2 separate regions of the Homo sapiens genome follow, and region 2 is linked to region 1. Evidence: fine-mapped expression QTL. A gene starts in region 1. The other region holds a variant in brackets. All regions are shown on one strand. Distances are from middle to middle.

Region 1 (4,383 bases):
GGTGCCTTTGTTTGTTCTTCTGTGAAATGGGCTGAATTCCTCTGGGAAGATGGGAGGAGTCTGTGGGAGGAGGAAGCTCTGTAAATACAGACATGATTATTATAATATTAATGACAGTATTAGTGCTCTTTAAATCGGGTCACAGCTGACCAGGAGGAGGGAGGGGAAGGGGGAGTCTATCAAAGGCATTGCCTGAGGAGACTCCAGCACCTGGGAAAGTTGGGTACACAGTAGGCATTCAATAGATGTTTGCCAAATGAAGTGAGGAAGAGGGAGGGGACCCATGGGGAGGACAGAAAATTTCTGAGAATCCCTGGCTCAGATTCCCACTTGGTGGCCCGAGTCACTGTGTGACCTGGGGCACGTGTCTCAGTTTCCCCATCGTGGTGCTGGTTGAGATAAGATACTGCCTTGAGGTGTGGTGACGAGAATCAAGCCAGATTGTCTGTGATCGCAGCCCAGGTGGCGAGGCCAAGAGGGGAGACATGACATAGTGGGTCATTGAAACAGCATGGTACCTGCTTGAACCAAGTGACTGGTCCGTGGGAAGGATGAGAAAACCCTTGCTACTGGCCCTACTGTACATACACTGGGGTCCAAGAGAGAGGGAAATGTGAGATCCTGTTTCCCAGGATCCTGGAAGCCAGATCGTGGAAGGTCAGGAGTGGCCCAAGGTCATCAGGCAAGACGTCAGCGGCTCCGGACACCCAGCCAGGCACCACTCGATTCCCAGGATGGGAGCTCGGGTCTTGCCTTTGTTGCTGATGTGGTTCCTGCTTTGTTTTATCTGTTCTGGGGCTGCTCACATGTCTCAGCCCCAGGTTTGCAAGACTTGGTGCCGGGAAGGCAGGATGGGGACCTCTGAGTCAGCTGGCAATGTGCTGTGTAACCTTGGGCAAGTCTCCGGCCATCTCTGGGCTTTGTGCTGGTACTGTACAGGCTGGGAGACTTGGGTTCTAGCAGGGCTGACTTCTCCATCAGACCCAAAATGCCCAGTGTCTCAGGCTCACAGTGCTTTTAGGGGTCCCTAGGTTGATGTTTTCACTTCTTTTAAAATCCAAAGGGAAAAAAATGAACTCTTGGGTTGAAGGAAACATTTTTGTGTATAATATTAATATATTTGTCTTTATGTCAATGTAGTTGTAAAATACAGTTTTGTTTTGTTTTGTTTTTGAGACAGAGTCTCTCTCTGTCACCCAGGCTGGAGTGCAGTGGCTCGATCTCCGCTCACTGCAACCTCCATCTCCTGGGTTCAAGCGATTCTCCTGCCTCAGCCTCCCGAGTAGCTGGGATTACAGGCATATGCCACCCCACCCAGCTAACTTTTGTATTTTTAGTAGAGACGGGGTTTTACCATGTTGCCCAGGCTGTTCTCGCACTCCTGGGCTCAAGCAATCCACCTGCCTCGGCCTCCCAAAGTGCTGGGATTCCAGGCATCAGCCACCACCTAAAATATAATTTTAAATTTCTTTTGTAGTGAAGGAAAGCGCTCATGAATGCAAAAATGTCTTCCCCTTTCTTTTCTTTTTTTTTTTTTTTTGAGATGGAGTCTCGCTCTGTCGCCAGGCTGGAGTGCAGTGGCGCAATCTCGGCTCACTGCAACCTCTGGCTCACTGCAACCTCCACCTCCCGGGTTCAAGTGATTCTCCTGCCTCAGCCTCCTGAGTAGCTGGGACTACAGGCATGGGCCACCACGCCCAGCTAATTTTTGTATTTTTAGTAGAGACGGGGTTTCACCGTGTTGGCCAGGATAGTGTCAACCTCTTGACCTCGTGATCCACCCACCTTGGCCTCTCAAAGTGCTGGGATTACAGGCGTGAGCCACCGCGCCTGGCCATGTCTTCCCCTTTCTGAGCGCATTTCCCTCTCTGAGCCTCAGTTTGCCCAGTCTGTGAAGTGGGTATCGGCCTACCTCAGGATGGCAAGATGTTGAATGCCTGGGCCAGGGTTGGTGCTCAGTTATTTCCCAATTGCCATGATTAATATTTGTTCGGTAAGAACAGCTCCAGGTTCAGGCCGGGGGGCTCCAGGTTCAAGCGCCTCTTGTTTACTCACCCATGGCCTGTGTGGTTCCAGGGAGGTCCCATGGGTGCTGATCGGGCGGGGGAGGAAAGGTGGCGGTTGGATGGTAGGCGGGGCGGGGTGAGCTTCCTGTCCCCCCCCCAACCCATGCACACAAGCCTCCAACTTGGTGCTGACGGAAGTGGCCTCGTGGCTGTCTCCTGGCGCCTGCCCCGTCAGACAGGGGCCCCATCCCACTCGCTACCCTGTCCGGTGAGTTTGAGCCCTGGCCAGTAGATACCCATCATCTCGCCTTGGCCCCCCTCAGGAACAGAGGGGAGGCCCCCCTGCCCGGAGCCTGGGTTTCAGGAGAAGTAGCAGGTGTCACTTCCTGGGCTGGCCAAAGCCTGCATGGGGCCACCCGTTGCCCTGCCCCCCGTCCCCCATTCCAGCTGTGAGTGGTGGTTTGGGTTAGGGGGGCGGCAAGGGGAGCTTGGAAACCCAGAGAGCCACGCGTGATGGTTTCAAACAGGAGGTCATTGGCAGACAGACCAGGGGCAAAATCACAGTCAGCCGGGACCAATGATTGATCTCTCTGTGCCTCGGTTTCCTTCATAAAGTTGGGGTTGCCTCTGAGGGCATGGCATGAAGATTGGATGAGCAGATGCGTGTGAATAGTTGGGTACAGGGTCGCACACATACTGGTGCTCCATGTGTATCTGTCTGCCAGAGGTGGGGTGAGGCAATCTAATTGAAACTGTGAAAACAGTAGTGAGATTCTTGGTTTCTGGGGAACTTGGGCTCCTTGGTTCCTGGGATCTTCTAGAACAATGTTGGCCATCCAATACAGCAGCCATCAGCCCCATGTAGCTACTGAGCCTTGGAAGAGAGGCTGGCACAGCTGAGGAGCTGGGCATATAATTGTATGTATGTATGTATGTATGTATGTATGTATTTAATTATTATTTTTTTAAGACAGAATCTCACTCTTTCAACCAGGTTGGAGTGCAGTGGGGCAATCTTGGCTCACTACAACCTCCGCCTCCCAGGTTCAAGTGATTCTCCTGCCTCATCCTCCCAAGTAGCTGGGACTACAGGTGTGTGCCACCACGCCCTGCTGATTTTTATATTTTTTGGTAGAGATGGGGTTTCACCATGTTGGCCAGGCAGGTCTCGAACTCCTGACCTCAAGTGATCCACCCACCTCGGCCTCCCAAAGTGCTGGGATTACAGGCGTGAGCCACTGCGCCCAGCCAATTGTATTTAATTTTACTTGGTTTAACATTAATACAAAAATTAATACAAAAATTAAGGCCAGGGGTTGTGGCTCATGGCTGTAATCCCAGCACTTTGGGGGTCCCAGGCAGGAGGATGGCTTGAGCTCAGGAGTTCGAGACTGGCCTGGGCCACACTAGTGAGACCTAGTCTCTACAAAAAAAAAAAAAAAAATTTATTTTTAATTAGTTAGACATGTAGTCCCAGCTACTCGGGTGGCTGAGATGGGAGGATCACTTGAGCCTGGGAAGTCGAGGCTGCCATGAGCTGTGATCATGCCACTGCACACTCCAGCCTGGGTGACAGAGCAAGAACCTGTCTCCAGAAAAAATAAAAAAATAAAAAAAACTTAATACAAAAATTATTCAGGCGTGAGCCTGTAGTCTCAGCTACTCGGGAGGCTACTATTCAAGGCTCCCTTGAGCCTGGGAGGTGGAGGCTGCAGTGAGCTATGATCGCACCACTGCACTCCAGCCTGGGCAACAGAGCGAGACCCTGTCTCCAAAAAAAAAAAAAATTAAGTCACCACATGGGGCTAGTGGTTCCCATGCCAGTCAGCACAGCTCTAAGAGATTTGGAGATGCTTAGGGTCCTGGTCATGGACAGAAGCTAAGAAATGATATGGAAATTTAGGGCTTTTCCCCTAGGGATGTCAGTGTAGCATGCTCACCACCCTACCCCTGCCACCAAACTAGGTTTCCTAAGGGGGTGTGGTGGGGACTGAAGTTTTTCAGGGGCCCTGTCATTAACCAGTGCAGGGTTGGGAATGTTTGTTGAAACAAATAATTCCTTGCCCAGTGAACTCCTATTCATGCTTTAAAACCCCAACTCCCATGAGCCCTCCTTTAGTCCAGGTTCTTTTGGACCTTGTCCCTCCATCTGGCCCAGCCCTGACCATGCAGGACGGTGATATCTGTGTCCAGCTCTGTCTCTCTAGACTGGGGACTCCTGCAGGGCCAGGCCCGAGGCTGAATCAACTCAGGGACCCTGACATTGTTCTAGTCTGGGTGAGCAAGTAGGAGGTCTTGGGTGACTCACAGAAGTCCCGGGATTGGAGGCTCAATGATAATGGGTCCAATTAAACTAACTAACTTTCTTTCTTTTTGA
Region 2 (4,383 bases), 27 kb after region 1:
TCCCTCCACCTCCCCATGTCTCCGCCTGGTGTTCTCTTGTCCCGGCTGGGAGTTGACGTCATGCTGGGGTTTTTTTGTTTTTGTTTTTGTTTTGAGACAGAGTCTCACTCTGTCACCCAGGCTGGAGTGCGATTTCAGCTCACTGCAACCTCCACCTCCTGAGTTCAAGCGATTTTCATGCCTCAGCCTCCTAAGTAGCTGAGATTACAGGCACCCACCACCACGCCCAGCTAACTTTTGTATTTTTAGTAGAGACAGGGTTTCACCATGTTGGCCCGGCTGGTCTCGAACTCCTGACCTCAAGTGATCTGCCCACCTCGGCTTGCCAAAGTGCTGGGATTACAGGCATGAGCCCTTGTGCCTGGCCCATGCTGGCTTTTGAGGGACCATTTAGTCATTCATTTGATGAACATTTATTGAGTGCCTGCTGTGTACCTGTGCTGTTCTAGGGTCTGGGTTCTGAGACAGGTCTCCCTTCTCAGAGTCACATTCTAGTGACTCCAGATTTTAAGAATAGCAAATAGGGCCAGGCGTGGCGGCTCACGCCTGTAATTCCAGCACTTTGGGAGGCCAAGGCAGGCGGATCACCTGAGGTCGAGAGTTCGAGACCAGCCTGACCAACATAAAGAAACCCCATCTCTACTAAAAATACAGCATTAGCCAGGCATGGTGGCACATGCCTGTAATCCCAGCTATTCGAGAGGGTGAGGCAGGAGAATCGCTTGAACCTGGGAGGCGGAGCTTGCAGTAAGCCACTGTTGTGCCATTGCATTCCAGCCTGGGCAGCAAGAGGAAACTCCGTCTCAAAAAAAAAAAAAAAAAAAAAAAAAAAGCAAATAAGTTAGAGCATATTCGATACTTCTAAGTGCTACGAAGAAACTAAAGCAGATGACGCGAAGACAGGAGGAGGTGACTTCCCTTGAGGTGGGGTTGGGAACCTCCCTGAGGGGGTGACTTGGAGCTAAGCCCCAAAGAGGAGCTAGGAGGTGACTGTGAAGAGAGCTGGGGAAATGGAACTCCAGACTGGGAACAGGCTGCACACAGTGGCTCACACCTGCAATCCCAGCACTGGCCAAAGCAGCCAGATCACTTGAGGTCAGGAGTTTGGGATCAGGCTGGCCAGCATGGTAAAACCCCGTCTCTGCTAAAAATACAAAAATTAGCCGGGCATGGTGGCAGGTGCCTGTAATCCCAGCTACTCTGGAGGCTGAGGCAGGAGAATCGCTTGAACGCAGGAAGCGGAGGTTGCAGCAAGCTGAGATCGTGCCACTGCACTGCAGCCTGGCCGACAGAGCAAGACTCCGTCTCAAAAAAAAAAAAGACTGGGAACAGCATGTGCAAAGGCCCCAGGGTGGGATGAGGCTTGGGAAAAATAGAAGCAGCCCTCTTGGCCTCACCCTCTCTAGCTGTGCAGAGAGATTGCAGTCAGAGGAGCAGGTGTCCAAGAACCTCTTTGGGCCGCCCCTGGAGTCAGCCTTTGACCACGAAGATTTTACAGGTGATGGGGATAAGGGATTGGAGGGCATGGGTGTGGCCGGAGGGAGGTTGGGTGGGGCCATTGCAGAGTTAGGCCAATGAGGTCCCCTGGAAGCCAGGCTGGAGGGAGGACTAGTCCGTGTAGGGGTGGGCGGGGCCAGAGTGCGCGTGGGAGGGGCCATAGATAGGGTGGGGCCTTGGCCAGTGGGCGGTGACTGAGTGGATGGGCCGGACATTTGTGGAGAGGGAAGTCACCAGAAGGTGTAGCCTTGGGGGCGTGCACAAGGACTTTGAATGGGGGCCCCCCTGACCTTCCCTCGACGTGGCCGTGGCCTGCAGGAGGATGGGCAGGGACTCTGAGTGGGCGAGGGTCGGAGCTGACCGCCCGCTTCCCTCCCCAAGGCTCTAGCAGCCTGGGCTTCACCTCCAGCCCCTCCCCTTTCTCCTCCTCGTCGCCCGAAAACGTGGAGGATTCCGGCCTGGACTCTCCGTCCCACGCGGCACCTGGCCCCTCCCCAGATTCCTGGGTCCCCCGCCCAGGCACCCCGCAGAGCCCGCCCAGCTGTAGGGCGCCACCCCCAGAGGCCAGGGGTATCCGGGCACCGCCTCTGCCAGACTCGCCGCAGCCCCTCGCCTCGTCTCCAGGCCCCTGGGGGCTGGAGGCCTTGGCCGGAGGAGGTGAGTCCAGCGGGCCTGGGCCTGAGAGTTGCTGGAACCCTGGGCGGGGGATTGAGCGCCTGCTTTGGGCAGGGCCTGATCAGGCTGCTGGAGACACAGCCAGGACCAGGCAGGCAGAACCTCCCACCGTTGCAGGGACAACAATGAGATGGACATTTAGCAAGGCAGGCGGTAGCGGGTGCCAGGTGGGGGCCCTCCCTGAGGAAGGGACATCTGAGCTGAGATTTGAGGGAGGTGAGGACAGAACCACGTGGACATGAGGGGAAAGGCGTGCTGGGCAGAGGGCACAGCCCCTGCAAAGGTCCTGGGGCAGGAGCGCGCTAGGCCTGTCTGAAGAACAGCAAGGAGGTCTGCCTGCTGGAACGGGGTGATCACGGAAGGAGGAAGAAGAGAAGGCAGGGACCAGGAAGGGCCTGATGGGCCCAGGGAGGGCTTGTGAATGTTACCCTGAGTAACGCTGAGGGCCATGAGCAGGGGAGGGGCGGGACCTGAC[T/C]CAGGGGTCACAGGCTCCCTCTGGCAGCTTCGGGAGTGAGGGCAGAAACCAGAGACTGGGGAGGCAACCAGGGAGGCAAGTAGGCGATGGGGGTAAGGGTGGCAGTGGGAGAAGCAGGTGGAAAGGTCGCTGCAGGGGAGAGTTCGGAGGAGTAAGGATGGGGAAGGAGCGGAGTCAAGGGAGGGAGGAGGATGGGGAAGGAGCGGAGTCAAGGGAAGGAGGAGGATGGGGAAGGAGCGGAGTCAAGGGAGGGAGGAGGATGGGGAAGGGGCGGAGTCAAGGGAGGGAGGAGGATGGGGAAGGGACAGTCAAGGGAGGGAGGAGGATGGGGAAGGGGCGGAGACAAGGGAGGGAGGAGGATGGGGAAGGGGTGGAGTCAGGGAGGGGTGGGGGACGTCGAGGCTGTGCCTTTAGGTGTCAGGTGCACAGTGGACCCTGAGTGTGGGGAAGGTCAGGTCAGAGCACCCCCTCCTTGAAGACGTCATCAAAACAGGAGGAGCAGCCGCCCAGGGAGAGCAGAGGAGAGGACAGCCGGGGAGCCCAGAGGGGTTGGAGACAGGAGGACAGCAGGAGATGGGGGGAGAGCGGCGGGATGGGCTCCTGGGGGCTGTCTGAGGAGAATGGGAAGCCCCCGAGTCAGAGGGACTGTGGGCTGTGACCACCCGAGGTCCCCAGTAGTGTCAACAAGGGCTCCTGGCACCCTCCATAGGAAAGGGCCAGGCTGGAGCCCGTTCAAGGGAGAGCTGAGTGGGTGGAGACCACAGAGTGGGGGCAGAAGAAGCTCTTTTTTTTTTTTTTTTTTTTGAGAGGGAGTTTTGCTCTTGTTGCCCGGGCTGGAGTGCAGTGGTGTGATCTTGGCTCACTGCAACCTCTGCCTCCCAGGTTCAAACAGTTTTCTGCCTCAGCCTCCCAAGTAGCTGGGACTACAGGTGCGTACCGCCACACGTGGCTAATTTTTGTATTTTTAGTAGAGATGGGGTTTCACCATGTTGGACAGGCTGGTCTCGAACTCCTGACCTCAGGTGATCTGCCTGCCTCGGCCTCCCAAAGTGTTGAGATTACAGGCGTGAGCCACCGCACCCGGCCTGAGTAGAGGCTCTTATCCAACCCTGCAAATTCTGCCCCCCCAGGGGACATTGTCAGTGTCTGGAGACATTTTTGGTTGTCACCACCAGGCAGGAGTGGTGCTCCTGGCATTCAGTGGGTGGAGGCCTGGGTTGCTGCTCAGCACCCTACAGTGCACAGGGCAGCCCCCGCCCCCGAGAATGGTCCAGCCCCCAAATATCCACAGTGCTGAGGCTGAGAAAGTCGGGTAGAGCGGGGAGCACAGCTTGGGGTACAGGTGAGAGGGGAGGTAGGTGGGAGGGGAGGTTGGCAAGCAAGGGAGCACGTTCATAGATGGAACAGAACCAGGACCCTGAGGAAGCAGGAGAGGGAGGGGAGCTTGGGTGTTAAAGGCATGAGACTCAGACACAGACCACAGTAGGTGGCTGCAGTCAGGTTCTCGGAAAGGGTAGAGGTCACAAAATGGCTGAATGTTGGCTAAAAATCCTCTGCTGAACCCCCCTTACAGCATGCCTGCGTCTTAAGCCTTCAGTGCTTGCTTGCATACCCCCAGTGATGGGGAGCTCACCCCTTATTGGGCCACCATTCTGGTGTCTGGGAGGGTTGGGGGTGTGGACAGTATCTGCAGTCCTGTCTGGCACCTTTTCTGCAACACCAGGACTTCAGACCCA

Evidence for each region. PIP is the estimated chance that this variant, and not a neighbour inherited with it, causes the effect.
Region 2: its variant is the best candidate, but not a certain one, in a credible set for the expression of FCHO1 in whole blood (TOPMed, PIP 0.86).

Annotation. Positions count from the first base shown.
Region 1 is chr19:17,749,304-17,753,686 of GRCh38, forward strand. It overlaps FCHO1 (FCH and mu domain containing endocytic adaptor 1), which reads left to right and starts at 2,174. Exons shown (of 29, transcript NM_015122.3): 1 at 2,174-2,274. It overlaps FCHO1-AS1 (FCHO1 antisense RNA 1), which reads right to left and starts at 2,094. Exons shown (of 5, transcript XR_007067152.1): 1 at 1,913-2,094; 2 at 1,355-1,447; 3 at 1-60. RefSeq lists an enhancer at 4,332-4,383.
Region 2 is chr19:17,776,731-17,781,113 of GRCh38, forward strand. It overlaps FCHO1 (FCH and mu domain containing endocytic adaptor 1), which reads left to right. Exons shown (of 29, transcript NM_015122.3): 19 at 1,407-1,498; 20 at 1,879-2,154. Among named protein-coding and RNA genes, the nearest start is that of B3GNT3, 16 kb to the right of the region's middle. RefSeq lists an enhancer at 1-36. The variant T/C (reference allele first, on the strand shown) is at 2,648.